Linked DNA regions of Homo sapiens: region 1 is linked to region 2. Evidence: fine-mapped QTL for protein levels in blood plasma. A gene starts in region 2. The other region holds a variant in brackets. All regions are shown on one strand. Distances are from middle to middle.

Region 1 (16,062 bases), 290 kb before region 2:
CTTAGTCTGTCTGTATTGACCCACCTCAACAAAAGCGAGAACTCTGATGATTTCAGGAGAAGAGTAAGATAACTTCAGCCCACCTCAACTCTGAGCATCCTTAGGACGGAATGTCTATTCAGGGTGGAGCTCCAGTGATTTCATCTGAAGGATGCTCAGATATCATCTGACTTGTGAAATCCAGCATCGTTGTCCAAACCCCTACTTGGCATCTCTGCTTGTGTGTCTAGTGGTCTTTCACGTGTAACACAGCCGAAAAGAACTCTTGCTTCTTCTCCTTGAATCTGACCTTCCCCAGGGCGTCCCTATGTGGTAAGCAGCATTCCCATTCACTCAACGGCTCAAGCCCCTAGCCCAGGAGTTTTCCTTGATGACTCTTTCCTGCAGTGCTCCCAAGCCCATCAATAAATCGTGTCCACTCAACACCCAAGCAATTCTCAAATCTGTCCACATCTGCAATAGACCCTCTGCCCCTTATCCTGCTGGCACCATCCTAGCTCAAGCCACGAGGCTCTCTCACCTGGGCAGGGGTCTCCCAAACTGAGCTTCCATTCTTCTCCCACCCCTCTCTTCCATCCCTCACCCCAACTCTGGGACATGGTCGGCTAACCCAAGTCATCTTTAAAAAACTGTAAAGTAGGAACCTTGATGTTCCTCCCCTGCTTCAAACCCAAGTTAAGAGTAACAGCCCAATGCACTCTATCATTGCTTACGGAAATTGATTCTGCCTAGCCCTCTGAGCACATCTTCACTGCCCCCACCCCCGCTCCCCGCCCCCCGCATTCCCTCTCCACTCTACCCAATGCCCTTCCTTCTCTTCTGAAACATTCCAAGCTCAGGGCCACCTTAGAGCCATGACAGCAGCCACTACCTGTCTGTGAACGCTTGCTCTCCAACCACTCAGTGGAAAGGAGTCACTTCTAGCCTAGCACACTGTTTCAGTTCTCATGGCTCGAACTGCCGCCGTCGGATAATTATCTTCCTGACTTATTTGTTTGTTTATCATCTGGTCCCCTAGTGGGCAGAGCTCTGGCTCCTTGCGTCTCCATCAGTGCTGTACCCAGCACCTCCGCCACCACCTGGTAGACAGTGGTGCTCAATAAGTATTCGTTAAATAGATGAGCGGCTGCCTTTCTGGGTTTTATTGTCATTACTCCACAGGCTCCTGTGACTCTCTGGAAACATCAAGCGAGAGCTGGAGATCCAGCACCAACTGAGATGGCTGCAGCTTCAGCAGATCCGAATTCTGAAACCAAGGCAGGCGTGCTAGTTATTAAATCAGGGCAGTGCCCAACAGGACATCAATCACAGCTCTGAGTTCATATCGAGCTTAAGACGACAGCCATCTAAGCATAGATTCTACCAGCAAATACCTAAACGTTTAAAGTTATTGAAAATCAGAAGCTCGGGTCTCGATCTTCATGGAACATCCCAGCTGCTCCTCAATCTGAGGCCCTACGCTCAAGCTAGAGCTCCATCACAGCATTAACTCATTAAAGGATTGACACCAACACAAAAGGGCCACGGAATCTACTGGAAAGCCCTCAAATATGTGGCAGTTTTGTAGGCTCTGTGACTCTCTTCATGGGAACGGCTAAGAGGGAGCCAAATGTGGAAGCTCCGTCAGTCTCTGGGACACTGTCCCAAGGCATCCTTGCATGGAGCCAGCATATCTTGGCATGGCCACCAAGTTGAATTCTCAGACATGTGGGAAACTGGAGATGAAGGAGGTTGCCTGCTGCCTTTCCCCAGCTGCATCCTACTAAAAAAGAAGTGGGGAGCAGACCCCAAATTTAGCTATGACAGCCAAAATTAAGTGTGTAGAGCAGTTGAGTTCAGCCAAAACTCATAATGGTGAAAATAGGAAGTGCTCTGCCTCCTTCATGAAAGACTATCTGTTCATCAGTACCTTGTTTGGGTCCCTCCTCGAACAAGACTAATCCAGGACCTCCTGTCAAAGGGACCAGAGCACAAATCTCCCAGTATAAATGGACTAACTCTCAGATGAGCTAGGGAAATAGGAAGAAATTCCCTTATTTCCCTCTGTCTTCAATTCTACTTACCTCATGTTTATTTTTCATCTTACATGAATTAATAACTCTTCTCTTTCTTCTAAGGTTGTAAAGCTTCCACTCAAGCTTTTATCTCCTTTTTTTTCCATCTACTTTTTGGATGTGGACCCATCTAGCACCCGTCTCTCTTCACTACTATAAACCCCTCTTGCCCACTGACTTCTCACCTACAGAATAAAGCTTCCCCCCATCCTTTTTTTTTTTGAGGCAGAGTTTCGCTCTCTCACCCAGGCTGGAGTGCAGTGGTGCCATCTCGGCTCACAGCAACCTCTGCCTCCCAGGTTCAAGGGATTCTCCTGCCTCAGCCTCCCTAGTAGCTGAGATCATGGGTGTGTGCCACTACACCTGGCTAATTTTTATATTTTTAGTGGAGATGGTGTTTTGCCATGTTGGCCAGGCTGGTCTTGAACTCCCGGCCTCAAAGAATCTGCCTGCCTTGGCCTCCAAAAGTGCTGGGATTTCAGGTGTGAGACACTATGCCTGGCCTCCCCCATCCTAATCAAAGTATTTCCTTGACCCGTCCTCCCCTAGAAATTACTCCTTTGTCTGCCTTCATCACCAGACTCTGATGGGTAGTCTAAGCGGCGTGCCATATCATTCTTCTGCTTCCCAATCATTTCTCAAGCCTCATTTCACTCTCACTTCTACCACTTCACCCCCCTGACTTTACCTGTTATAAAGTCACAGTGATCTCTGATGCCCAGGCCCAACTGCTTTTTCCTAGTCCTCATTCAACACAGGTGAAGTTTAAATCCTTCACAGTCTGACTAATGCCTACCTGGCCTCTCTGATCATTAGCAGCCTTGCATCTGATGAGATGGGGTACTCACTTATCTCGACAGACATAGGTATGATCAGGATTCTGAAATTCCAGGAAGCCCAGGGCATATGGGTACTTATCACAATGTGGTATATGACTTCCCTGTGCACAGCCATCTCCCTCTGAATCACAGACCAGGTTTGAATCCACCATGTAAACCTGATGCATAGCCTACACTTGGCATTAAGTTTAGAGACTATCATTAAACTGTTGACTGTCATTAAAAGAAGAACATATGCCACCGATCCCTAAAAAACTCAAGCTAGCTATGTGGGTAGATTTCCAAAGAATCTGGAGACACTCCTTCTAGGGAGATTTTTTAAAGTCGCATTTAATTGATGCCTTAGCTAATAACTTTCTTAAATGAACAAATATTTTTTGAGCACCCACTTTTCTGGGCACTGTAGTATTAGCAGGTTTGCCGATTGGCATACCAGCTACAGCAGGAGCTGGGGTGGGAGATGGGAAAGTTAATCAGGCAGGAAGTAAGTCAGGTCTGAAGTGGGCTGCAGTGGCAAGGCCAATTCCTGAGGGTGCAGTCTGTCCCCTAAAAGCTCCTGCTTTCTGAGCTGCAGCAGGTCCTGCCCAGGGCATGCCCAGATGGGCTAAGCAACAGATGGACATTGGTGTGTTGGTGAGAGCACCAGGCTTCCCTTTGGCCTAGCCATTAACCCCTGATTCAATCCACCTATAACTGCTTCTTCTCAACCCCATTGCAAGGAAAGCAATGAGCAGGTGCTCAGACTTCTTTCTGATGCTGTATTTCCTTGATTCCAACTACCCCTGCTTCCAGGAGCATACCAGAGAGGTGGGCCACACATGGCTGAGTGGACTTCCAGAGCTGGCATCCATTGTCCCTCTCTCGGCCTGGCAGATAGGAAGGGCCAGCACCCAGGGATCTTGGAATGCACATGGCATCTTGGCAGCCACCTCTAACAGATGACCAACAAACAGCTTGCTTGGGCTGTAGGAAGTGACACAAACCTAATTGCACTTATTGGTTTCAACTACAATGCTCCTCCCACACCCAGCTTTTTTCTCCCTTCCCTGTTGCCATTGGATCTTGATCCCTAATATCATCACTTTATGCTTGTCTTGCCCGTGCATATGTTTGGGCTCTTTCTGCATCATCTGCTCTGCTGTCTAAAGACCTTTCCTTCCCCCAGGACTTATCTTCAGCAGACAAGAGCTCAGGAACCCAGAAGAGGAGAGGAAGAGGATATATTTCTCCTGCCTGACCATCTTTGGCCCCATCCATGCTCACCCCTAGAAAGACACTAAAGACCCTGTTTGTTAGAAAAAGAGGAGGAGAGGTGTTGAAGCCACAGCATGGGCTTTGCTGTCACCGCTGAGGGCTGCTAGAGAGAAAACATGGCTATCACTTGGCCTCAAAAGCTGCAGATTTAGATAATCTCACTAGCAATCTCTCCACCCCTTCAGATTTCCTGTTGCTATTTCCTTGAATTCCTTCCAGCTGGTTGACTTCTCTCCAGTTTGTGCCCCTCCCTTGCCTGGAGCCCAGATCAGTGGGTTGGCTGGAAATGCCTCTCTCTGAATTGTCTGTGGCCTTTTACAGCCAGCTTCAATCTCTACTGCCATGCCCCACCCGATGTGTTCCAAGGACGCCGCCTGCTTAAAGGTCAGAGCAAGAGGTCAGGATACATGGGTACTACCTCCCAACCCTCACTCTGACCTTGAGAAAGTCATGGCATCACGCTTGGTTAACCCTCTGCAGGACATAGAGATTAGAGGCTTCATTCAGAATTCCATTAACATTTCTGGACTGTGCAGCTCAGAATCCCCAGCCCTAAAATGTGGCAAGGCTCTGGCCAGAAGAGCCCTTTGGGGAACAACATTATGTGAATGTTGGCAACATCTTGATGTTACCTGAAAAAAGATAATGACCTCTGCATTCAACGTGTTGCATCTTTGGGTCTGAAGCAATAATGTTTCAGAAGGAGATAGCTTTCCACAGTCAGCTCTCTGTTACAAGATAGCTGTCCCTCAGGAGAATCCACTGGATACCTGCTTGGGGGAATCCACTGGATACCTGCAGTCCTCATCAGAGGTAGCAATGCAGTGACAGACATACTATCTCTGATGAGGGCTGCCACTGAGCCATCTCCCTTGTTCAGCTTAACCACCAAGAGTACCTAAATACTTGTGCTGTTTTTCGTAAGAATGGAAAAATAAAACAATCCAAGTTTTCAAACACAGGGGACTAGACAAATAAATCTGGTATGTCCACACAGTGGAGCATGACACAGTCATTAAAAGTCAAGCCATGACCCTCTGTTTATTAAGACTGTGGGGAATCTCATTCTCATATATGGACAGTCCCCCACTGAACGATGGTTCGACTTGGGACTTTTCAATTTCACTATGGTGTGAAATTATTCTGCTTTTCACTTTCAGTATGGTATTCCATAAATTACATGAGATATTCAGTACTTTATTATAAAGTAAGCTTTGTGTTACATGATTTTGCCCAACTGTAGGCTAATGTCAGTGTTCTGAGCACATTTAAGGTAGGCTAGTCTAAGCGATGATGGTTGGTAAGTTAGGTGTTATTAAGTGCATTTTCAACCTGTGATATTTTCAACTTATCATGGGTTTATCAGGACATAGCCTCATGGTAAATTGAGGAGCATCTGTATTACTCTTGGGGTACACATTGGTATCACCCCATATGGCCAATATATACAAAACAGATATACCAAATAGCTTATAGGGGTCATACGGCTTTATGTTAATATTATATTTAGGTTCAACCACATTTATTTAGTTTCAATATATTTAGGATCAATCCATTTCCGTGTTTTATAAGAGCAAACTGTTGTGAAGAAATTAAATAAATTTGAGTACATCAATATAACAGGATAGTATGGATCTCTAAAACAACAATGAGGGAGTTCTCTAAGAGCTCCAAGAAACTGGGGTGGGGAAGGGATTATCCTAAAAAGTGCACAATAGTATGTATGACACAGCTGCAGTTGTACAAAATAGAGAAAAAATAAACAACATACATTTATATCTGTTTGTATATAATTGGCTTAGATATAATTCATAAGGACACTCAATAACAGAGGTTACTTATCTGGTAATGGTAGCGGTGCTAGGAACAACTTGCCAATGAGGAACAGGTGTAAAAAAGGGGAGTGCTCTCATTTTATAGACAGATAGATCAATCTGTAGCAGTAATTTGGATAAATAATGATAATACTTCAATAAAGTTTACATATATTATATATGTTTAGTTTATATATTATATATTTACTATGTATTATATACAAGCATCATTGAGTTCATACATGCAAACTTTATTTTACATATTTATTATATAACTTATTTTGTATATATATACAAACTTTATTGAGACATTATTTTACATACCATAAAATTCACCTATTTTAATGTAAAATTCAACAACTTTTAGTAAATCTACTGAATGGTATAATCACCAGCATAAACCAGTTTTCAAACATTCATCACCCCAACAAGAACCCTGGGTCCATTTATAGTTAATCCCTGCTTCCAACCCCAGCCTTAGGCAGCCACTAATATAATTTCTGTCTCTCCGTATTTGCCTCTTCTTGACATTGCACACAAATGGCATCATAGAAAATGGGATGTTTTGTGTCCAGCTACTTAGCATGTTTCTCTGAGATTCATTCATGTTGTAGCATGTGTAAGTGCTTCATTCCTTTTTATTGCTGAGTAGTAATCCATTCTATGGTTACACCACATTTTCTTTCTCCATTCACCAGTCAATAAACATTGCGTTTTTCTGCTCTTGACCATTATGAAAAATGCTGCTATGAACATTTCTGTGCAAGTTTGTGTGTGTGTATATGTGTGTATTTTTTTAACCATGTGGTGAATATATCACTTCCACAAAAATTTTTAACATTGCAAAAGATCAGTTAAATTGCAAATGCAATCTTATTTTTAAAAAAAGGTAGCAAAGTAATGTGTATGTGCATGTGCACGTGGAATGATTTGATTCTGACAAATAAGTACATAAAAAAGATTAGAAGGCAGAAAGCTGAAATGTTAACAGTGTTGTCTCTGGGTGATGGGATGGTGGATAATTTATGTGTTTGTGTGCTTTTCTGTATTTCACTGAATTTTCTACTGTGAATATAAATTACCTTTGTAATCAGAAAAAAGCACAATGTTATTAAAAGAAAAAAACTATCCTTCCTATTCAATTTCTCCAGGGTCTTTACCTTTCTGTGACAGAGAGATATTCTCACAATAGTCCACAGATGGGGAGCCGGGAAGGGGCAGCCCCTCTCTTTCCTTTATGATGCTGGTCACGGCATCCAGAAAGCTGCAGATCCCCAGTAAATACCAGTCAATTGTGGAGACCTCGAGATCAGTCTCTATGGCAACTGGGTGGGCCTGTAAGAGCATTGCCCCAGTGTGGAGACTGTCCAGCAGGAAGAACCTCCACAATTGTGTACCTCAGGCAGCCCGAGGTCACCAAAGGACCGTGGTGTTTATTCACCAGGCAGTGGAGTCAGGATTTCCAAGGCTTGAAGGCAGCTCTCTCTAAACAATGGAAACTTTAAAGTCTTAACTGATCATTTTGATTATGCCATTCTTTGAACTGCCATTTTTATTTAAACATCTGCAGATCAATATCATGATTCAGTATTTTTAAGAACTCCATTAGGCTGAGCAAGGTGGCTCATGTGTGTAATCCCAGCACTTTGGGAGGCCGAGGCAGGTGGATCACTTGAGATCAGGAGTTTGAGACCAGCCTGGCCAACGTGGTGAAACCCCATCTCTACTAAAAATACAAAAATCTGCCAGGTGTGGTGGCGGGCACCTGTAATCCCAGCTACTCGGGAGGCTGAGGCTTGAGAATCACTTAAGCCCAGGAGGTGGAAGTTGCAGTGAGCCGAGATCACACCACTGCATTCCAGCCTGGATGATAGAGCAAAACTGTCTCAAACAAACAAACAAACAAACAAACAAACAAACAAAAAACTCCACTTGGGAACTAGGTGTCTTTCCTCTATGTTTACCTCTCCCATAATTTCATCATATTGCTTCATAATTACTCACTTATCTATACCAGGCCTATTCCTTACATTTGAAGGACTTGGGACAAGGGAATAATTAGAAGCACACACACATGTCTAAAATTTGGAAGTTATAAATCAAGCTAACACACTAATAAATAAGGCATGTCTTATCCTCCTGCCCTGCGAAATTGATCTTCAGGATGACCTGAAGGACCAGGTGACTTCCGGTGTCTCTGGTTCCTCAGATTTGCGAGTGGAGACACATGGTGCTAAGGAGTTGGCCCCTGGCCTGTTCCCTTCTCTTCCACCCCCATCTTCCATCCCACAGTGAAAGGGGTCTCGCGTACATATGTGTGCACACTGAGCCTGCAACTCCATCTTCCTCTAACCGTCCCACCCTGACACTCTCGATGTTCCCACTGCCCCCACACAGTAATCCTTTGGCCAACTCTTGGGCTTAGCAGTACACGTACCTGCAGCGTAGCCCACCCTTAGAACAGATGAATGAAGAGACCCGCATGTGTCCTGGAGGCAAGCTGAGAGCTGTTTGGGTAAGGAATTCTGGTTTAGGAAATGAAACATTGTCTAGAAGGGAGGTGGGGTGCAGGCTCCAGATGGTCCCTTCTCATGGCCCTAGGACTTTTGGCAGCTAAAGGAGGGCCCTAAAAAGTGGGGAGGTCCCCTCTTACCCAAGACTAGTGAATACTGGACTGTATTGTCTCTAGACTGGGGTTTCTCAACGTTAATACTGTTAGCATTTGGGGCTGGATCATTCTTTCTTGTGGGGAGCTGTCAGAAGCACCCACCCTCAGTTGTCACAACCAAAAATGTCTCCACACATGTCCCTTAGGGGACAAGATCACCCCCAATTGAAAACCAGTGCAGGAGACAATAAAGCTCTTGATGACAGGAAATACAACTGACTCACTTAGTAGCAGAGTGTGTGGCACAGAGTGGATGCCCCAAATATGTTTGAAGAATGAGTCAATTAAGCAACATTTGCTCATGATCTCAGAGGTATTCCTTGAAAGACCCTATTCCGGTGGGTTTGTGAAATAATCCCACAGAAGGGCAGTTCTTGCTCCCCGGGGTATAAATGATGAACAGGAAGAGGCATGAACACTGTCACCCACTTAGGACCTCATGATGAGACAGGTCCCTCTGCTGGGTGGTGTGCTGGGTGCTATACAGAGTTAACCTAAGGAAGCTCCCTAGACATTAAAGCATTTCATAGTCCAATCTTCCTATACCGAAGCTGCCCAGCTTAGGAGAAAGAGGAAGGAGGTGCCAGAGTGTCTAAACTTAAATAGGCACTCCCATAGGTCCTGGCTAGAGCACTGCGAGCCTCACATGTTCCTTAAACAAGTCCAAATGTGATGCACAATGAGAGCTACAGTGCAATGAAGGGATGCCCAACCAGCAAGGTGCTGCTTATAAATTCTCTCATCCCATGCCATTCATGCCTCCTGCTCTCACCAATGGGATTTTGTAAATCCTGTTCGTGCTGAGTCTCTTCAATCAACCAATAATGTTTACTGTGACATCAAGCCCATGTTCTTCTCCAGAGCAAGCAAACAGCCCCCACTCTGTTTTCTTATAATAGGTGAAGTCTTTCTTGTATATTTTCCACATTC[C/G]TAGCAACTGAACATGCATGGTTGTAGCCAGTTTGCTTTAAGTCAACACCCATGGGGCAGTCAGTGATGTCTGAGTAAAGAAATGGAATTCTGATGGACTTCTACACTTGGATCAAAGTGCATGACTGGTAGATTTCCCTGGCTCCAAAGGGACTCAGGTTTGATTTCAGAATCTGCTTGTGCCTGTTTTCCTAGAACAGCAGGTCTCAAAATGGTCCAAAGGTCCCTGGTGGGCTCAAGACCCTTTCAGGAGATTCATGTGTCAAAACTATTTTCCCAGCAATAGTAAGATAGTGTATGCCTTTTTTACTCTCGTGTCTCGCAGGTATTATTCATGAAGTTGTCCAGTGGTTTCCAGACATGTGATGATGTCATCATCCTGACAGCTACATGGAATGTGTGTGTATACTTGAGCTTTTAAATTATACTCAGTTTTAATTTCAAATGCAGTGAATATGATGGATATAACCCACAGAAACAAACATCATTTGGGGTTTCTATGACTTTTAAGTGAAAAGAAGTCCCAAGACCAAAAACTTTGAGAACCACTGCCCTAGAGCAATGGTGCTAGCCTAACTTCTACATCACAGCAAGTAGGGAGTGGAGGCAAAACACTTCAAAGACTTCTGGGAGGTAGAGTAAGTTAGTGAGGGTAAAAATATGTACACGTTCAGAGTTTTATAACAGGAGTGTCACTGTGACATTTTAACTGCAAAATGTTCTCCAGGTTCTTCAAGGTAGAAAAAAAAACAGGTCTAGGAAAGAAACGAAAGTATTGATATCTTCAACAAAAGCAACACCTCCTAAATACAATATTGCTTGTTTGGAGCTCTACTGATGATCTAATTTGCAGTTTGACTAACCTCACCTCACCACCCCTAAACTGACCAAAAGTTGACTCCATGTGTTTGCATCTCCCAGAGTATTGTCAAGGGTATGCAAAAACAATTAGGAGAGTGACTAAGAGCGTGTTTGTACCATGTGTAGAGATGGAAGAGAGAGCATGTGAAGCTTGTGATTCTAACTGCAATTTGGGGATTATTGGTGAATTTCAATTACCCATGCTATAGAATCAGGATATGATTATCAACATGAAGCATTCATTTTATCACTGACCAAAATAAACAGATGAAAGAACTCATTCCCCCCAGCTTTACCACCAATCCTTCAATCAGTTTTTATTTAACCTTTTAACATTTCTTTACTTCTTTTATCTCCTCACATAACATAGATGCTATCCCCCCACCCCCTGCCAGGTACCAAGGTATTTTGAACACAATGGAATTATCCTTCCTATGCCCAGCATACTCAGAAGAGGCATAGGACAATTGCCTTCATCTTTCAGAGGGAACGAATGAGAGATGAAATTCACCTTCCCAGATTGACATGGCCAATTGGTGCCCAGGCCCAAACGGAGATGCTTCCCACTCATATCAGAGCAGGGGCCTTCCGAATCCCTGCTTGAAGAGGCACAGGCTGGAAACACCCACAGGGGTGGAAAGAGTTACTGACGCGTGTGCCAGAGTCCCTTTAAGGGAAAGAGGTAACTCCTGCTTTGTGCAAATATCATTTCCAGAAATTGCGTCCCCCAACTCATATATTGAAGGACATGAATTTTCTTGATTAAAATAATGATAATAGCAATAATAAGAAGAATAGATAGATAGATAGCTCAAGTAGAGCTCAACAGCATGTGACTAATGAGAAAAGTTTTACCAGTTCAAGGCTGGGGCAGCTAAATAATGGCCATAAACTATCATGTGAAGCCAGGCTACTTCTCTACAGCCTGCTTACATCTTCTGTGCTATAAATAATTCAGAGTTTTCTTTTTTCTTAAATATCACAAAACCAAGTCAGAATCTTTATGTGAAGGATTCTGCTGTGTCCCTCTCTCCCTCCTCCTCTCCCTCCCTAGCCAGCCCAGGCAACTCCCTGGAGAATGACCCCTCAAGCTTTAACATTTATACTTTGACATTTCAGACTATTTGTTAGGCAGAGCTGCCTTCTTGAGATCAATTTCAGAAAATCTTGCCGAGAACTCCCGCTTGGCCTTGTCCAGCTGTGACAGAGAGGGTCTATTAACCCCCAAGCATCTGCTTCCACCCTCATCCAGAGAAATCCACTGATCCTCACCCAAAGGGGCAGCCATCTCTCTCACTCAGTTTGCCTTATACACAACATATTCAGAGAGAGAGAAGGACCAGGAACCAAGAGATGTCCTCCACTAAGAGACAACAGTGACTCATGGGGACATGGTATTTGGGGCATCTGTCCAGGCAGGGTCTTTTACATGAGGATCAGCAAACTCTACTAGCTACTCAGAGACAAATATGGAACAAGGAAAGGTAACTTACCCCATGTCATTTTGCTAGTGGTAGAGTTGAGACTGGGATCCGGGTCTTCATTGCTGTATGCTACCACTAGATGATGTCACCTCCACCAGCCTGGGCGGATGGCCAGGTTTAATGCTGAGGTCTCAAGCTCTTATGTGAAATGACTTACCATTTTCTTCTGAGATATCACAGCGAAGGTTTCCTGATCTTCACAAGAGTGTCTATCCATCAGCAACCAGAATTTTTTCTGACTCTACGTAGAAGGCAGAAGTGAGGGCTGAGCCTAGAGCTGGGTAGCGTGCTGGGTGTGGTGGTTTCTTGATATAAGAAGTGGGTGGTTGACGAACACATCCTGCTTGATTCTTCTTTAAAAGCTTCTGATCACACTATAACCCAGTGTTTTCTAACATGTGTGTGCTGAGTCTATTAATAGATATTAAATGAAGAATGTTTTGTGTTTAATTAGAATTGGAAAGAGGTAGAATAAGGTTTGTTTACAGCAGGACTTCTTGGAGCCTTTGATATCCTAATGCAAACTGTGAAACTCTAAGAGCTGGCCATATTGTGCAACATTCTCCAAAGTTCTCTGATGGATCCTTGGCATATCATGAGACTAAGGAGAAACATTGCTGCAATCAATAAAAAGGGGAGCACTTGATCCTTACAACATCATTTGTCTAGTAACTGGAGGAAGAGAAAAAGATTTTTCTGCAAGTTGGGGATTTCAAATTAAGGGAGAACCATATTGCAGGCCCTGAAGCTCTGCCCAGAAAACAGACCAATTTATGCAGGATAACAGTTGGTCAAGTGATTGACCCAATAAAATTATTAAGATGGCCAAAGACACCATCCTGAAAATGCACAGTGGGGTTATTCTGGTCTTCTTAACGACTAGGTTGGCCATTTGGTATCAGAGGTACTGTGTAGCAATCTCCTGTTATGGTAGCAAGAAATGCCAAATTGACAGCCATAAAGATTGAACGATTCTGTGAGTCATTTAAACATGAACTTAGAATTTAAATTCTCCCAAGAAGGACATTCTCAGAATATGTTCTATATTGGTGGTGCCTCCCCTGCTGCCCACTGACAGTGGGAGGAAACAGACTCAAGTTCTCCCTGGCCAGCTCTATATCTGGCTCCCTCTGAAGCAAAAGGCCTCAGTGAGGAGCTATGGTCGCCGGTTGGGGGCAACCAGAGAGCATCACAGATCCTGGCTGTGCCCTCCTGGCCAGGGTGAGCTGTCAGGAACTAGCAGTCTTGACAGAAGTTGTTTGAGATTTACTCTCATGTTCTCTGCCATGTGAATTTTCTTTCAGAATTAATAGCAAGAGCATCCAGAGATTCTGACAGAATATAATTAATAGGCTAGATTTAGTTAGTATCTAGCCAGTACTCTGGAATGTTCCTTCTGTCACCCTTGCCTTGACTTTGGCAGCAAGAGGGCAGAGCTTGGAGACTGCTTGTCTGACCCAGTGCTGAGAAAGACTGGAAATTAGCCTTTGTAGGTGCAGGGGTCCCCTGCGTCACAGAGGCTAAACCCTTTCAGCTTAAAACTAGAGGACCCTCCATGTCATGAGCTCCCGACACGCTCAAGAACCTAGCTGTGAGAGGTAAATATTTCCCTAGGCCTGTGCAGCTGCCAAGGACCATGTCACAGGCTCTGTAGACCTGCCCCATCCCTAGAAGAGCACATGTGCTCCCCACAGCTCCACACCCTCTCTTTTTAAGAGAAGTGCGTTTTTGAAGGTCAGGATTTCATGACTTTTGACCAAAGGCTATTGCAAGCCTTGCAGAGCAAAGAATACCACAATGTGATTTTTAAACGACATTACGAGGTCCCAAACAGACTGAAGGTAGTGTGAGCTTTGGAGTGAGAAAGTAAGTGGTCTATCAGAACTCTGTAACAGAGGTATCACCAGGCCATATTAGACAGCAGTGAAGTCACTTTCCCCTTTGCCAAGGCTAAGTCCTTGTCCTTCTCACTGCAGAATGAACTTGAGGGCAAGGGAGGGGAGAATGTGTCTTTTTCAGGGAAATAGGCCACTTGCTCCAGTGAGGTCTCCAAAGGCAGAGCTAGGCTTCATTGAGCTGCCATGATAACAGCACACAGGTGGCAGAAACTGAGGCAAAGACAGCCATGAAGACAAGCTGGTCATCACTGCAATCCACAAAGGCTTCCAGCATTACTTACCAAAGCCAGGTTTGGTAGTGTTTTCTGAGGTGACATGATGTTCTGTCCCTCAAACTTGGAAGAAGACAAAAGTCAGGGACTGCCATACTGGAACGATGCCTTTGGGCAGCCTCACTCCTTGCTCTGCAAACCCTCTCCATAGCTGAGCAGGGGATTTTGACCACCCCTCCAAACTCAGACATTACTTGACATTACTCTTAGGGTGTGAAGTGAGAACTGCTCGAGGGTTTTGGCTCTCAGAAAAGCCAAGCTCCATTCTTCTTGACTTACGCCAAAGGCCCCAGTCCCCACCCATAGGTAAATCAAAGCCTTAAATCATCTATTTAAGAGAAGCTTTGAGAGGATCCTTTTGGTAGAGGGTCATGAGAAAATACCATGATCCTGAGAAAGCCAGGTGCCCATCTGGTCCCATATGGAAGGCTCATGTATCTTGGTTTGAAAGTCCCACCAGAGCCCTCAGCTAAGATTTCTCTACAGCTCAGTTCTCTGGGTAATTTGCAACCCTGCCGTTTTCCTCTACCTCAGAGTTCCAAGTTCCTTCCCAGATACAACCCACACAGACCTGGGCTGGAGGCCTTTGATACCAAATCTGAGCCATCAGTACCTTCTACGTCCCTGTGGGATCTGTGCTCCTCAGAAGTGCTCCTGTCTTTCTTGTTCCCTTCTCTCAAAGCAGAGCATGCCCCAGTCAAAGGTTTGCCTCTGATATCTTCCTTGTCCCCCTCGTTTTTGTCATTCCTCGCCATCCTGGCCCAGGAGCATACAGAACCTTTGAGCAATGCATTCACACCCACCCAGAAGTCAAGCATAATGAGGAGAGAAGATCTAGCTCTCTCAGGCACAAACACCCAGATATTTTGTGATAGAAGGAAAATGTGCCAAAATGAAAAGGGGCAAAAACACAGAGGGGTGTTAGACCTTATCACCCGTGCAGAAATCTCTTCCCTTATCAAGATTTAATTTCAAGGGAAACTGGGGTCACTCTATGCAAGTTTTATCCACTGAGTAGGAGAAACTGGAACAAAAGTCCTACCCAAGAGGGCCTCAGAATCCTGATGGAATTTCAGAACCACCCAAAAAAGCAGACAAGGGACTTATCTCTTGCCAGCATATCTCCTTCAACTCACTTTTGGGTTCAAGTAGGGTTGAAGAAGGAGTCTTATTTAGCTCTGGAAATATACTGTCAGATCTAGGCTGAGGTTTTCTTGGGAGGTGGGAAGTATAGGGGGTGGTAACAGTAGGATTTCTAAAGGCAAAATGCAGAACCAGAGCTATCCAAGGAATCTGGAGGCTGCAAGCAGTTTCGCCCACATCAGCCAGCATTAAAGATTGGCAATGTGGTGGGTGGGGGAGAGCTGGGAGAGAGGAGGAGGAGAGCTCCAGGCCCGTGCTGGACAGTCTAGATGGAAGCCAGACTCCCCATTGTTCTCCACCTTCCTCCCGTCTCTGCTGTCATGCTTAAGAGTTTTCCCTGGGCCCTTCACAGAGAAGACTCCAAGCAGCCAGCATCGCCCCTCTCCCCCTCCCTGTCTCTCCCTCCCTGCCACCTTCATTTTGCTCTTGCTTTCAGAGTCATGCTGGCAGCAATGTGCGAGTCTAGCCAGAGCACAGGAGTCAGTAAACCCTGAAGGAACAAAGGCTCCGGCTCTTTGCCTAATCCATGTCTGGCTCCGTGCAGAAAGCTACACAACAATGAAGTCGTCCTGCATTGATCTGCCCGCTCCTGAGCTTTCCCGCGGCATCCAACCCTCCCTTGCTGCCTCACCATTGTATCTGAGATGCTTGATCCTTTGCTCATGCCTGGTCTTGACCTGAGGGAACTGGGACGAGCCAGGGGATGTGTCACAGCCCAGTGCTGTGCTGCGGTCACACCTGTGGCTGGGGAGGTGGAGGTGAGGATGTGGCTGCTGGGAGCTTGGCTGCAGAAAGGGATTCCCGCACAAAAGAAGAGACAGAGGTGGCTAGAGGTCAGATTCTTG
Region 2 (16,062 bases):
TGGGCTGGTTTTTGCCCAAAGCTGTCATGGCCTCAGGTCCCATGGAGGTGCAGAGCAGATGCCCTTGGCCCCAGGGTGTATGACAGAAGCTTGACCTGCTGGGCTTCCTGGGGCAGGGGGTCTTGGCTCTGGAGCCACCAATAGCCTTTCCTTGGTGGAAAACCCCAGGGCCTCAGGAGACCAAGGTCTCCAGGTTTGATCCTGGAAGTACCTTTCTCTGGGGCTGTAACTACTCCTGCTTCCAAATCTCATGTCAACAGCCCCTCACATTTCTGCCCACCTCTCTCAGACCTAGTCCTAATCCTGGGGTTCTGAGCACCAAACTGTGCCTACCGAGAGTGAGCCCCATGATGCCTTTGGGGCCTGGCTCATACCCTGCTGGGTCATTGTCAAGGCTGGGTCTCCCCTTGATCCTTAGAAAGAATGAGACTCAGGAGCCAACATGACGGCCAAAGCCCCGAATGATCCTTCAGCCAGCCAGAAGAGGGCCTTCAGGGAGGGCCATGGAAATGAAGGGACCAGAGAGCTGCCAAATGCCAGGGACCCTGTGGCGGCTCAGAGTGAGACCCAGCTGGCGACTCAGAGTCCCAGCTAAGAGCCCGTGGTCTTTGCAAGCCGAGGTAGCCAGCCCCAAGCATACCTGGTCCAGCCATGCCATCCTCTCCCACTTCATCTTCTTTCTAACAGCTAAAGACCATACCACTCCAACCCAGCCCCAGGTAGGCCTGGCCTAGCAAAGCGGCCCAGACAGTCCACCATGGCCACCACCCTCCTGCCTTTGTGACGTCACAGCCTGGTTGGGTGTGGCTGCGCATGGACCCTTCCAGGCTCCATGAGGTTCCTGTGTATCAACAGCTGCAAAGGCAAAGGGATTGGCCTCCTGGGCAGAAAGGGGCCAAAAGGGAGGGCCCTTTGGAGGAGCGTGGCTCTGGTGAGGGGTGGAGGTGAGACCCACACTTATGCTCTGATGCCTTGCAACTGATTTCCTCCAGATACAAACAGGGCAGCTGAATGGGGAGATGGCCTCCCCCATCAGAGGCAGTTCCCAGCCAGCTTCCTTGGATGGCCACACAGGAATCACTCCACACACCATCCCTGAGAAGCAGAACCACAGGGAAACCTCTTGTCCCTCTGGAAACTCAGTTACAATCAGTTCAGCACTTGAAGGAAGGATCTCGAAACATTACAGCCCGAAGAACAAGAGGGTGAAACTGTGGAGGCCTCAGCATCTTCTACCCAGAGTGTGCCCAAGCTATACCCTGGGGCAGCCACCAGCATCAAGAGCTTCAGGCCAGTAGGGAGCTAGGGGACCTCTTGGTCCCATTTCCTTGATAACATCAGAAATCTGAAGAACAACTCTCCAGCAAGGCACGGGCTTCAACTGAAGCCCTCTTCCCAAGTCATACTAAAACAAGAACTGACCCCAGCTGCGGGTGCTTCTCTCTGCCCGCACATCCCTCTTCCAGCCTGCTCCATATGCAGCCCCACACAGTGGGGGTTCCTGTTGGGATTGTGTGTCTGGGGCAAGTGACCTTACCACCCCAAGCCTCCATTTCCTCAGAAGTCAAACAGGGATGGGGATGCTGACTTTCCGGGGTAAGCGTGACTCTCCGCCCTCTCTCCAGCCCCCTGGCTCTGGAGTGGAAATCTGGGCTCTTCTCGAGCTCAGTCAATACCAGCCATAGATATAACAGGGCACTGGGGAAAAGATGGGGCAAGGAGAGGTCATTTGACCCATGACCTCTGACCCTCCCCCACCTGCCACTGGCACAGCTCCTGTGGGAATCCATTTCCCTTGTTCTTTGGTGTTGGGTGGATTTAGAGAAAGGAGTCCTGATGGCCTCTCAGAATCCAAGTCCTGAAACAAGAATGGGGACACACACAGAGGGGCTCCAGATCCACTCCCTGCTCACTATCCTCCCAGACGCCCTCCTGAGGCCCTCCAGTACCAAAGAGGGCAAGAGGCCACCCCAGTCCCCTCCCATCACAGACCTTTCTGGCAGCCTAGAAAGGCTAACCCAACTCTGCCCTATGAAACTGCTTCCCTGAGCATCATTTTCAGAGGAGCAACACCTCTGTGTGGCTATAAAGAGCCTACGTGATTGTGACCATCCCTGCCTCCCACTGGCTTTCTACAGACAGACACATCCTTGGAGCAGCACACTGGATGCAGCTCACCCATTCCCAGAGACCCAGGCTGGGTACCAGGGGCCCCTTCTTCCAACCCTTGGCCCACCCCTGGCAATCTCTAGGTCAGGCTTCTGAGCACCAAGACTGGCTGCTCAGCTCCCACCTTCACCAGCACCCTACTACCCACATCCACCCCCTACACACATACACATACAGCCCCAGCAATGCACTTCCAAGTCTGAGTTTCCCTAACAGTCTCACTCTGAACCCTTCTCCCTGCATCCTTGGGAATGCTGGAAGCCTGTGGCCTGCAGTGGGGGAGAGGCACAGTTGGGTCTGTCCTGTTCCTCCTGCCCTCCCTGCTGACCCCCGCCCCTTGGCTGTTTATCTTGTCATCTCTGGCCGGGTTGAAGAGGGTAAGGGGGTGAACAGCAGAGCTGAGATATGGGTCAAGCTTGTCTCCTGGGCCAGGAGTCAGAGACATCTCCTGGGCTATCCATTTCCCTCAAACTGTCAGCTGCGAGAGCGCAAGCAGAAGCTCCATTAAGCCGAGAGGGCTGGTGGGCTTTCCAAAGAGCAGGACTGCAATTCCTCCAGGCTTTGCAGCCCCATGGCCCTGGGCTGAAGCAAGGGGAGGTGCTCCCAGAGCAGCACCAAAGGCAGGTCCGGCCCCCTTAAGTCCGTCGAAGGGGTAAAGAGCCACCCAAAATGCCTTCCTCCAGACCTTGGCCAGGACCTCAGCACAAACCCTTCTCAGCTGCCTACCCATTGCTGAGGGTCCCCAAGGGCTGGAAGCCTTGGGGGAAAAGAGGTGAGAATTATCCTCTGAGCAATTCCAGTATGGTCCACACCCTTCTCCAGGGTGGTAGGTTAGGAAGGGGTCACCTGGCCGAGGTCAACGAAAGAAAAGAGGAGCAGACTCTCCAGTCCCCAGCCCTCGATCTGTCCTCTCCTTTGCGTCTGCTGCCATCCCCACCAAAGAAAAATAGCAAGGAGAAAAGAGCAGGCCACCACTGGTCTCCCTCGGAGGGGGCAGAACCAAGCAAAAGCCAGCCAGAGTTGAATGTTCCAAATGAACCGATCCGCACGATCACACAAGAAACCCCTCTCCTCAAAACACACGCCCTCTCCTCTCCCTGCGCCATCCTGACTCGGAATAGTTCCGAGCAGTTATCAAAGCCCAAACTGGGAAGGGATCTGTAGGCGCCCAGATGCAGATGAGGGTGGCAAAGGGGTGTCTCGGAAATGCCCAAAATGGGGCTGGAGAGGGCGGGCTGCAGGAGGGGAAGGGAAGAGGTAGGCGTCCATGACGGCCTCCACACGTCCAAAGTCTCCCCGCGAGCAGCCAGCTCGCAACTTGTTTACTTGTCAGCATGTTTTGCTGTTTCCAAATGGAAATAGTTAAACACCTCGGCTGGATCGCGAGCAGTCCCTATCTGTCACCTTCCCTGCCGGCTAAGCGCTGCCGCCGCTGCCACCGCCGCTGCCGCCTCTGCCAAAGAATCGAACCTCGTCTACTTTATTCCACTTGAGCGTGGCCAAACTGTTGCTATTTAGTGGGGAGCAAAAAAAAACAATTTGCACCATCGAAACGAGCCAGCAACTGGTTGGGAGGCGGGCGGTAGCTGGGCCCCGCGTGCCCTCGGCGGCCGGGGTCCTCTCCGGGGAGAGGCACACACACGCATAGCCGGATCGCGCCTCGCCAGGGCCGGAGTCACCTGGAATGCGCAGCCGGAGAGCATCTCCCGAGCCAGAGCGAGCCTGACGCGCGCCCAGCGGGCGGCGGGCAGCGGCGAGCTGGGGCGGGCGGAGGGCCGGCTCCCGGCCGCGGGTGGGCAGGAGGGAGACGCAGAGCGCGGGGGAGGCAGGCTGGGGAGCGGCCGCCTGACTTACATGGAAGTGATATTCCTTGAGATGTCCGTGATGTTGATACTGGCGTTCCCATTGCTGTTCCCTGAATCCTGCCCTTCCAGGAGGGGGAAGAGGTTCCCATCGTCCGGCCGCCGGCAATTGATCTCAGTCTTGCTGCAGACACAATTTGCAGGGCAAGCCAGCACGGAGCCCACATAGTCCAGCCAGACGCTTCCCAGCAAGAAAATCCGCCAGAAACTACACTTGGCTGGGCAAAGAGAGACATCCATCTCCGATCGCTGCTTCTAAAAAAGAGGAGGAGGAGAGGAGAGGGGGGTGGGGTGGGGGGAGTGGGGAGAGCAGGGGGGGAAGGAAACAAAGACGGCGAGGGAGGGGGGAAGGGGGAGGGGGGGCCTCTGCCTTTGAAACGCCGAGCGATCAGATGCAAAATCCTTCAGCGTCTGAAACCATCGCGGACGCCGCCGCCGCCGCCGCCGCCGCCGGGTGGGAGCCGCGAGGAGCGCCTAGTGGCGCGGTCTGCCGGGCATGGTGGCCGGCTCGGCGATCGCTGACTCGCCGGGTCCGGGGGCTCTGGAAGCGAGGCGCGCTCTCCGACTCCGAGACTTTGCAGGGTTGCAACAGACGGTGGGGAGGCAAAAAAAAAAAAGGAAAAGGAAAAAATGGTGCTAAAGTCACCAAGTCCCACCTACTGGGCAGAATTAAAACGGACACACCACGCACCTGCAAAACACACACACTCACTCTCACACATACACACACCCGGAGCCCGAGGAAAGGAAGAGAAGGAAGATGCAGTAGGAGCTGCAGCAGCCGCCGCGAATGGCTCGCCGCGCGGCTGCAGAAATGTACAAGTGCTCCGAGCCTTACGAAACGCACGGGTTATCGGAGCGTCTTCCTCGGCTCCCTCCCTCCCTTCCTCCCTCCCTCCTCCCCTCCCTCGTCGCGGCCTCCTCCCCCCGCCCCCCGCCCGGGCTGGGAGCGGCAGGAGAGCGGAATCTCCCCCTCCCTCCCCTCCCCACACCCGTCTCTCTCCCCGCCTGTCCTCTCCCTCCTCCCCACCCACCCACCCACCCACTCGCCGGCTCGCGGCTGTAGCCGGCACCGCCACCCGCAGCCTCGCGGCAGCCCGCCCGCTCCACGCCTCGCAGCGCGGCGCCCGCTAGCCGCAGCCCGGGGGAAACCGAGACCGAAGGGAAAAAGTTGCATTTGAGATTGCGAGGGTCGGGGCTGGGGAGGGAGAGTTGGCGAGCTGGCTGCACGACACGGAAAGGCGCTCTCCTTTCCACTTTTTGGCCCTCGCGCTACCCGGTTTTGCTGCAATCCGGACCGCGGTAGGAAGTGAAATGAACGTGGCGGAGGTGATTGGGGAGTGCTCCCAAGCCTTGGGTGGGGGGCGCTCCCAAGCCTGGGTGGGTGGGGGGCGCAGGCTCACGGACGGCGACGGGGGGTGCCGGAGCGCACAGACACCCCAGAGAAGCACCCAGAGCCGGGGACCGGGACCGCAGACGCGCAGTCCTTGGTCTGAATGACACTCATTTCCGTAATCTAGAGTCTGGGGCTCTGGTCTTGGCTGGGAGGGGACTGCGGGACATGGCACGCTAGGTGCCCCCCGTGCCCGCTGCGCTTTCTTGGAGGTGGGTTTTGCATTCGGCCTTGAGCAGGCATGGATCGGGGAAGGAAGAAACAGGGGTCGAAAGGGCTGCGCTGGAGAGCCGAGGTGGCCCCGGGCGAGCTGTGCGTGCAAGAGAAATGGCCGGGGGAAATTGAGATGCAAGGGGCATATTTTGGCAAGCGCCACGCCAGCACCGTCAGAGGCCGGCTTCTCGGGCTCAGCTCTCGGGTGAGCTGAGCTGGCTGCCGGGTGAGGGGGCGGGCGGGCTGCTTTCTCCGGATTCGGGGGCGCAGAACCTCCTCCTTCCCTCCCACACAAGCACCCCTTCCTGGTAGGGACGCAAAGCAGGTGCAGCTTTCGACGAGAGCTCAGATCTCATCCGGGAAAGAAGTGTGTGTGGGGGGGGCCCCGCTTTTGCGCTGGTAGGGATTTTTTTCTTAATAAAACATAAAGATGCCAAGTGTGAGCTGTTTGCTGAAAAAAAAAAAAACGAGCATTCGCTGTGGGAAAGGAGAAGAAAGGGTTAGGGGAGTCCGAGCAGGCAGACACACTACAGCATTCACACGCAGAAGAAAGCAGGGTTCTCCTTCCCGAGCTTGGAGGAGGGCAGGCGAGGAAGCAAAATACATTGAATTCAATTCAACTGCATCCAGTATCTGAAAGGAGTCTCCCCCGCCCCCCTGTGGATTCCGATGCAGGTCATGCAACTTGCAGGCAAGATGGGGGAAGGGGTATGCCGGTGTCACCGCCTGCCCCAGGCGCAACCACAAACAGGCCGGTCGCCTTCGGGTGGCACTGTCGCTTGGAGTAAAAACTTGGACGAAAAAAATGGAAGAAAAGAACATGCCTATACAAGGCAGTTTTCCCGACTTCCCGTCACGTTCCACCTTCCCTTGGCCCCAGGGAGATTTTTACCCCCGTCGCCATTATGGCCTTGTCTCCAGACTGGCATTTTGCCCTCCCACCAGCAGGCGGGGACAGAGTGTGAAGACCTCCTTGGACTCTCAAACCACTTGCTACTGGCCCTAGGCCAATCCTGGCTGTCCTTAGGCCACTGGGAATTTCCCTGTCACTTCAAGTGCCATTCTGGGATTGGCTTTAGAATATCTGAGAGTCAGGAAACTGAGGTGTAGTCAGATCCTAACACTTGGCCTCTCTTGGGAGGTGGCAGGTGGCAGCAGAGAAACACAGCCTCTCTCAGACCACTCCTGGGCAGGGAACGCCAAGTGGATTCAGCCCAGCATCAGTGCTCCAGCCTGGAACTGAAATGGTTGTGTCCAAAAGATGCCCAGCCCACTTTTTTGAGAGAGAGAGAGAGAGAGAAAGAAAGAGAGAGAGAGAGGATTTTTAACATGTCAAGCAGAGAAGAAGAGACATCCATAAGTTAGAACAACAAAAACAACAACAACAAAAAACCTTTAAAAACCCCTCTGGATTTGGTAAAAATGCAGATTGTGGAGCAAGGGGCCCTGATGGGCAAGAAGTCTTTCATCCTGACAGTAAAATGGGATTAAGATGGGGTGCTACGTTTATGCTCACACTCTGGGCCTGAGCAGGAAGCGACAGCTGAAAAAGAGGGAAGCCCTTTCAAAAGCAGGTGACGCATGGACACATAGAGGGGACAATGCACATGAGGGTCTACCAGAGGGTAGAAGGTGGGAGGAGGGAGAGGATCAGGAAAAATAACTCATGGATACCAGGCTTAATACCTGGGTGATGAAATAATCTGTACGACAAACCCCATGACACATGTCTACCTGTATAACAAAGCTGCACATCCTACACACGTACCCCTGAACTTAAAGGTTTAAAAAAAAAAAGCAGGTGATAGACTAGAGTGGGGAAGAGCAGAATTTCATTTCTAACCACAGGGAAATGACAAGCTTTCTGGGACTCCGCTTTCCCATCTGTAAAATGACCACGTTAAGACCAGATCCTCAAAACCCAAAGTGTGGCCCTCTGTCCAGTAGCATCCATATCACCTGGAAGCTTGCAAGAAGTGCAGCATCTGAGGCCCCATCACAGACCTCCCAAACCAGAATGTCCATCAGAACAAGCTCCCAGGTGATTCATAAGCACATCGCAGCCCCATAGTCATCCCTCCCAGCTTGAAGATTCTCTGATTCTACATGGATCTGGGCCAAAGGGACTGTTGAGGGAGAAAAAAAAAAAAAAGGTGGGGAATGATGGGGATGGGTCCTCATAATGTTATTCAGTTACAGTGAAGTTAGGGTGAAATAAACTGGGTATCTCAGAGGCAGGGGCCTTGTCAGAAAAAGACATTTGAAGTTTCATTCTAAGCTTAAGAAGATGAGAATGACCTGCTCATGCACTGCTCACAGAAATCATAGTGCAGGGTCAATAATAGTGCACACTCAGAGTTTGCTAGTTCTTAACCTCTGCAGTAGGCCAAATTTAAATGTGGGAGCAGAAGAAAGTCTCCAGCGTAGACACCCTCCCCTCAGTAAGAGTCCAGAGCATTTACAGTGTCTCACCTCTTGATAAGAATGTCCTGGTTGAAAAGGAAAAATGCCTGTCGCTTCATGGAGTCCTGGAGATATCATGACCAAGCTCAGCATCCAGCCAACCAGGGGTCACCCCCCAACCTCCTCATCTCCTTTGCTACCAGCTGGAGTCTTAGAAAGGAGGAAACTCACCCGTGTGCCCCTTGCTGATCAATAAGAGGCAGGAATAGGCAAAGTTTTTTGTTTTGTTTTGTTTTTTGAACAGAAAGTAAAGCTTTAGAAACCCTTTACAGGCGAGCAGACACCTTCCAGTACCAAGGGTTTGGAGAAGACAGAAATGTTCCCAAGATTCGAATGCAATCTTTCACCAGACAGGTCAGAGTGGGGACCACTTGCTGGAGCACAGTGGCCCAACTCCCCTGACACCTAGAGAAATTGAACACGTGTCTTTCTTAAAAGGCATGTTCCAGGCGTGCAAGCACCTGAGATTAATATCAACTGTTTATGGGAGATTTCCAGCAGCCCACATTCCCCTCCACCTAGCAAGGGAGAAAGGGAGTGGAAACTCAGAGCAGAGCCCTGCCAGTCTATTGGTCACCTGTCTGCCTTTCTAACCCAGCCACATCCCTTTTTCCAAAGGACCCATACTCCTGAGTCAGTGGCCACATTACCGGGATGTAGGCCACACACCAGGCAGGTCCATGGATTCACCCACCATGCCCTGCTCCTATGGTGTCATTCTGAATCCAAGAGCTGTGCTTCACAACTTTCAAGTTTGAGCAGAAATAGGATCTACTTCTGCAAGTCTCAGCTGGTCAAGAAACTGTGATACTGGGAGGTGACTGGGGAGCACAGCGGGCTACAAAGGGAATACTAGGTCCTGAAGGACTTGCTGTTCTAAAAGAGCTATCTGGAGCTGGCAGATCTGGGCTTGGGCTAGAGGAGGAGTTCTGTTTCTTGGGTGGCCCAAGCATAAGTTACAAGGGAAAGAGACAGGTCTGGGCCTGGTTGGAGGCTGGGGATGTATAATGCTATCCAGAAGCTCTGGGTCCAAGGAAAGAATTTTGACCATACATGGAAGATGAAAGCCCACCCACAAAAGGGGACAGTCAAGCACCAAAGTGGTCCAGGAAAGCAGAAGAATTCAACCATGGAAGAGCCAGCTCAGGGCTCCCACTCAAGTCCCAATATCTTGGACAAACACCTGCCAGGAGGTTGGGACTACCTGCTGGTGGTGTCCTGCTTGAACACCTTCAGTGGCAGGAAGCTCATTACCAGCCACTCCAGAGCCTTCGACTCTGTTCTCAGACAGCTCCATTCCTTGGGTATCCTTGACTTTGACATAGCGAAGCCAGCACCCTAAAGCTGCCACCCTCGTGCTAGTGCTGCCACCTAGACCCTCAGGGAAAAGTCTCACCTCTTTTCTGCAAGCCACCCAGGAGGCTACTCACTGCCCCTCTCTTCTCTGAGCAAAGCCTCAGTTCCTTCCCTATACTCCAAAAGCACAGCTTTCTGATCTTTCCCCACTACAGCTATTGGAAATGCATTCGGTTTGTCAAAGTGATCGGTTTAAATAAAGCATGGCTCCAGATCACACCGGCTTGAGGTGCTCTGACCTTGGGGAGCCAGGCGGTAAGCAGCTGTAATGGGACTAAAATGGTGTCATGTAGGGTTTACTACCCGCTAGTATCGAACCCTAGCAATGTACTTAAGGCTCTCCGCCTCAGTTTCCCCTTCTGCAAAATAGGATCTAACTCACAAGGTTGTCATGAGATAACACAGTAAGGCACTTTGAATAGTGCCTGGTGCACATAAGCATGGTATGTCAACTTTATTATGCCACTTTTGAGGTTCCCAGAGGGCTTTACCACCCAGCAGGGAGGCCCCAGCAGCCTTTATCCACTAACAGCCAAACACAATGCCGCCATGAAGCTCTTCCCACACACATTGCAGCACCCCCTGGCAAGTTGGTGCAATGGGTCGGGTGCAGCCACCGCCCACAGATACTCTCTGGCTCTGGTCCTAGACCCCAAAGTGGTGTGCTGCCAGAGAGGGTTCAGTGAATCTCGGGTCCCTGGGGAAGAAAGTACAGAGCGCAGGCCCAGGTACATCTCCCCTGAGATGCAACTCCTCAGCCCCGGAGCCCCTCGCTGCTGGTTCTCATGCCTTTGAGTTGCTCCTTCTGGGCTTTGGTCCCTTCCATAGGAAGGTAGACCCTGCTGAGTCACCACCGGCTCTGAGCAGTTGAGTTGGGCTGGGAATTTAATGCCGCACGTCCTAGGTCCTGCAGAGGCAGTGACTCACAAGGCCTCCCTGGCCTCTGAGTGTCCTGGTGGGGGCCCTGCAGGAGCAGATGCTAGAGCCCTTCCTTAGACAGCAGGATCCAGGGCAGGCAGCTGACTTCCTGCCAGCAGGTGAGCACTGCAGGCAGGTTAGGGGAGCCAGGGAAGAGGGATTCCCACTCCATGAGCCAACTTCCCCCAAGGTATGAAATCAGGAGTCAAGAGTCAGGACTCACACTTTTAGGAAGCCAGAAACCTGCAGGTGGTTGGCAGAGGCTAGTGCAGCACCACTGACAGGGACTGAGGGGAATGGAGAGGCTGGAGAATTGCACCTCCACACCCACCCTCCATTATAGACATAGCCCTCACGTGCCTTCCTAGATGAGCTCTCTCGGAGTAACTTACATTGTGCCTTCCTCTGCACAATACCCAGCCATTTGCCTATTTACTGATGAGAGAGCAGCCAGGGATCATCTCAGAGGGCAGCCGGGGATAATGGCCTTCATTTGGCAGATGAAGCAACTAAGATTGACAGGGTGGGGCAGAGAAGTCTGGGCACCTTCCTGACTTGCAAGGAGATATTCCTGTTACCAGGTTTTAAAATGTAACTTCCTTGAGGGCACAGACCTTGCTTATTTTATCTACTGATTTGCCAGCCCCGTAAACGGCATTGAGAACACAGAGGGGCTCTCTAGGTGGTTGTTGAATGAATGGCTGCCCCCAGCACACCTTGCCCTTTTGTACCACTCCACACACATGGAAGTAAGGGTTCAGTGTCTGCCTCCCCCTGGGCTGCAGGGACCAAGAGGGCCAGGAGCTGTCAGTGTTGTTCACTACATACCCCCCAGGGCCTACTTTGGTGCTAGCCCAAAAATGGACACCACATATTTTGGGGGAAGATTAAATGAATTATTTTGCTGCCTGAAACCCCATGTGTGTCCACAAGAGAAGTTTGGGACTTAACAGAAGTGAGGTGCTTTGAGCTGACCACTTCCTCTGTATCCCCAGAGTTATATGTGCCGCCACACACTTCTCCCCAACAAGGCAAATATCAAGGGGTTTCTAGAAGCAGAAAGATTAGCAGCTCCTGTTTTCAAGAGAAGGTTGGGAACAGCAATGTCCTACCACCTGGGCCTTTGGCAGCCTCCTCCCACTGAGTCTAGGGAAGAGCCCAGGTCCAGCAGCCCCATTACTGTGGCCTCTGCCCTGCAGAAAGCCAAAGAAAGACTTCTTCTGGGTTAGACATTCCCCCTTCGTTCCTCCCCATCTCCTAGGGCCCCCACTGTATCCTATTGCCCTTCTTGGTCAACCCAGCCCACTCCTGCTCGGCTCCCAGGCTCCCGCCTCTGCCTCACCACCTCCCACGGTTGCCCTTCTCTCCACCTGCTCCTCACCAAAGCAGCCCATGCCACACCTTCCAGCTGCCCTGGCCCTGAGCCTCTGGCTCAGATTATAGGACTATGGCTTTCAGACCCATCTTTGTACTAATGCATTCATTTAGCATCAAAGCATATTGGGCTGCATCACCTTGGGCATGCTACTGTCCTTCTCTTATCCTCCACTTCCTTCTCTGTCACGTGGGGATCCAATGATGCCAAGGACCAAGCAAGATAATGCACCTGAAAACACCTTGTGGACATTAACACTCACAAATGACAGCCACTGGTTTCCACTAAGAGTAGCGGACACCAGTACCTTTGCACACTTGATTAGCACTTCACCTCTGACCTGCCTGCATTTATCAACAACCAGATGATCTCAGAGTTGAGGAAAGCCAAGACAACAGCTTCCATTTACACCATGCATTACACTCTCGCCTCCAAGGGGCAGCTTTATGAAGTGTGAGTTTTAGCCCCAGGCAAATCTGGTTTGAACCCCAGCTCCAGCACTTTCTAGCTGGTGACCTGGGCTTATCATTTCACCTAGCAGAGCCTCATCCTCCTCTCCTGAAGGGCACTGCTCATGGATATTTCCCTTGCAATGCAGTTTGGAGAAGGCAATCATAAAACGTGCATAATGTGCCTAGCCCAGGATTTGATACATAGGAGTTCTCCCTTCCCTTATTTTTTCTTTCTACTATTCTTCCTTAGGGGGCCCGCTCCATACCAGATGGTTCGGCCTCCCTATTAGGGTGCTCACAACTCCACCCTCCTTGCTTGCTAGAAACTATCCTGGCTTCTGTTTCTTTAAACAGAACAGAACTCCAGGAGCATAGAGGGCCAAAGAGGTGATGCCCCAAACTCCTCAGGCCCAGAGAGGAGGAGACCAGATATTTGCCAGATACCTGGGACTCAAAACAAGAAATCACCAGATCAGCTCCAATTTCTTCTGGCACTGATTACTGAGAACAGCACACACACAACACACATTTAAGTAGGTATCAAGAGCAAATGGAAAACCAAAATTTAAAAAAAAAAGTGTTGTCTTATTTGCTGAGACACCAGTGTGGGAATTTGGGGGAAGCGATGCGTTGTGGGGAAGGGCATGGGAAGCCATGCTTGCCTTTGGAACTAAGAGATAGTTCCCTCCCACAGACTTTCTGCTGCGTCCTCCACCCCCTCCCCAGCCCACAGCACCAGCTGCACTGCCTGGGAACTGAGGGAACAGAAAGCCCAGCCCAGGGAGTTCTGGGATGGGGGTGGGAAAGGGAATGAAGGTGGCAGTGGGGGAAGGTGCAAACCAGCCCTGACAAAAGCTCAGGTCGGATGCTCAAAGCTGTGGGGTGAATGTGAGGCATGGGGAAGGGGTCCTAGAAACTCAGCCTGGAAGCACACCTGGAAGGCACCATGAGTTCATCCAACTGCTGGAAGCCAGATGACCCTCAAAGCACTGCGGACACTTGGAGTTCCCCTTGAACACCCTCTTCCTAGTGTCAAGTTCTAGAACTTCCCTCCAAGAAAGAGAGCCCAGGAGTCCAACCCCATGGATGGATGGCAGTGACATTTTCCCACTGTGCATGTGCCCTATGACAGACCTCTCCCCAGTGTTTCCCAGTGACAAGCCCCACACTCCCCTTGCCCAGCCTCATGCTGGAACGAACAAGGAGATGTCCATAGAACTGTGGTGTGAAGGATCTAACCTCTTTCCAGAAGAGTTTATGGTTGCCCCAGGGCTCAGTGTCCCTGACAGATTTAAATGTAGCAGAAGCCATCCAGAGGCCACACCCACATACCAAAAGGGAAGCATCCCCTGGACCAAAGAAAGCCATCTCTTACGATCGTGGGGCCCCAGAGATGAAGATGGGCAGAATGATGGTGATGATGATGATAATAACTTCAACCGCAACGTATTGACTGTTTTCTGTGTGTGACATTTTTCTATAGCCTTCACGTGTGTCATTTCATTGAATCCTCACAAATACTTGGTTTTACAGTTGAGAAATAGAATCAGAGAGGTTAAATCACATGTCCAAGGTCACCCAACTGGTACGTGGAATAAGCCAGGTTTTAAACCCTGGTCTCCTAAACACAGCATGGAACCAGGTGCCACTTTTTACACTAAATTGTCCCTAGTGAGGCAATGAGGAAAGGGGAGACTGCCACCTCTGCAGGGGACTTGGTGAGGTGCACTTCTGCCCCTCTGCATCCCCACACCCCTTTGCCAGGGTTTCCCTGGTTTTGAGACCGAAGGAAGGAGGGAGGACCCCAGCGGTGACCATCCAAGCCCTCATTAGCCATAGCCCTAGACCATCCTGGGCTAGGGCTAATGAGGGCTTCAGCAGGGAGCACAATATTTAGTCTATGACCTGTCCTGTGGCAGGACAGGTTTTATCTAACACTCAAATAGCTCCTTCCCAAAAGATCAATGGGCCAACTTTCTCCCAAAAAGGACAGGGATTCTAGAGTTAGGCCCTTGGCACAGTGGACACAATGAATGTCCTACCCAAGCATCTGTAATCAACAAATCAATAATTAAGGGAGGATGCACATTAACCTTTGAACAGGTTCCAGAGAGTTTATTTTTGATCTTAAACAGGGTGAACAAGTGTGTGCTCCAAGCCTGGGGAAGGCTGTGGGCAGCGACAGAGAGATGGGGAGTGGGCTCGGGGATGGGTGTGTGAACTCACCACATGTGGTCCCCAGGGGCATGTGCTGAGGGTGGCAGGAACCTCCAGCCTGCGAGGGGGTCTTCAGGGGCTGGACAGTGCAGGTGAGCACGGGGAGCAGGTGGCGGGGGGCGGGTGGGCTTTACTCGTGGGTGGGGTGCGGTGGGGTGTGGGTGAGGGGCACTCCCAATGGGCTGGGTATGCACATGTGGATGCAGGTCGGAGAGAGAGGTGGGAGCCAGAGGGGTGTGTGGGGAGGTTGCGTGTGTGGTGAGGGCAACTGCAGAGGCTGGGGGCAAAAGAAGGTGCTTAATGAAGGATGCTGATGGCAGGATCCTCATTCCCTTGTGCCAGATTGAATTAGAAGCCATACTTTTAATCTGTAAACTCTCTGATGCAAAGATGACAGAATAGAACTTTGTAAATATCACCGCACTTCCTGACCCCCACTCTTCTCTTCTGTCCCTCCCTGCCCTCATGGGCTGACCACAGAAGCCAGCTCACTTTGCTTTCAACTTCCAAGTCCACTGAAAGTTTCCAGTCCCGGGATTTTAGGAAGAAGAAAGAAGATACTAGACATTTCTGTGAGTTCAGTTTATCATTAACCCCAACTCCCTCACACATACCAAAAATAATAGCAATAATAATATCACTGATTTTATAATTATAAAATCATAATCTTTGAAAAGGCCTTAGAGATTAACCATTCCTGTGTTCCTCACATTTTCCCAACTAGAATTCCCAAACTTGGAGGAGAGAGAGCAGGGAGGGAGGGGATGAGGGGGAAGGGGGTGGAAGATTTGTGCCATGTTTGTTATTCCTGTGCCTTTGAAGACCCTGGGGTATTGCCACAGTCACAAAAGCCTCATGGAAACTTACCAATTTGGGAAACACCACATTTAGTACAATCCCCTGTCCCTGCTATTTTATAGGTAGACAAATTAGGCCCAAGATAACTAAGTTATGTCCCCAAAGCTGCATAGTTAGTTAGGACTACAGCCAAAGGCTTCTACTCCGAGGCATCCATTCTGCCCATTCAAAAAAATGAAAGAAAGAAAGAAAGAAAGAAAGAAAGAAAGAAAGAAAGAAAGAAAGAAAGAAGGAAGGAAGGAAGGAAGGAAGGAAGGAAGGAAGGAAGGGAAGGAAAGGAAGAAAGAAAGAAAGAAAGAAAAAGAAAGAAAGAAAGAAAGAAAGAAAGAAAGAAAGAAAGAAAGAAAGAAAGACAGACAGACAGAAAGAAAGAAAGAAAGAAAGACGGAAGGAAGGAAGGAAGGAAGGAAGGAAGGAAGGAAGGAAGGAAGGAAAGAAGGAAGGAAGGGAAGGAAAGGAAGAAAGAAAGAAAGAAAGAGAAAGAGAAAGAAAGAAAGAAAGAAAGAAAGAAAGAAAGAAAGACAGACAGACAGACAGAAAGAAAGAAAGAAAGAAAGAAAGAAAGAAAGAAAGAAAGAAAGAAAGAAAGACAAGTAACAGATTCTGGCTAGAGGTCTGAGAACCTCATGTCCCAAATGCTGCTGGCCCCTCCTGGACCACACACCTCTCTCTCAAGTGGAAAGCTACCCTTTTTTTTTCTTTTTTCAGCACAACAGCATTTTATGACACATTTTTATGACATCAGCTCTTTAAGCATCTCTCTCCAAGGAACACAAAATTCTCCAA

Which allele goes with the higher level. Alleles are on the strand shown, and positions count from the first base shown. The strength of an association depends on the size of the effect and on how common the allele is.
In carriers of allele C in region 1, the plasma level of the protein whose gene starts at base 4,857 in region 2 tends to be higher than with G alone (weak association).

Evidence for each region. PIP is the chance, under the fine-mapping model, that this variant and not a neighbour inherited with it causes the effect. The UK Biobank Pharma Proteomics Project read protein levels with antibody pairs (Olink). The fine-mapping took linkage between variants from a reference panel, not from the people measured, so its PIPs are less certain.
Region 1: its variant is fine-mapped to the plasma level of the NTRK3 protein (UK Biobank, PIP above 0.99).

What each region holds. Positions count from the first base shown.
Region 1 is chr15:87,958,227-87,974,288 of GRCh38, forward strand. The region is part of intron 14 of NTRK3 (neurotrophic receptor tyrosine kinase 3); the gene reads right to left. Among named protein-coding and RNA genes, the nearest start is that of MIR11181, 20 kb to the left of the region's middle. The variant C/G (reference allele first, on the strand shown) is at 9,560.
Region 2 is chr15:88,251,883-88,267,944 of GRCh38, forward strand. NTRK3 (neurotrophic receptor tyrosine kinase 3) reads right to left here and starts at 4,857. Exons shown (of 20, transcript NM_001012338.3): 1 at 4,762-4,857; 2 at 4,402-4,604; 3 at 4,024-4,286. The coding sequence starts at 4,271. NTRK3-AS1 (NTRK3 antisense RNA 1) reads left to right here and starts at 848. Exons shown (of 4, transcript NR_038229.1): 1 at 848-1,596; 2 at 14,899-14,990; 3 at 15,985-16,062. RefSeq lists enhancers at 3,001-3,538, 3,539-4,075, 6,416-6,710.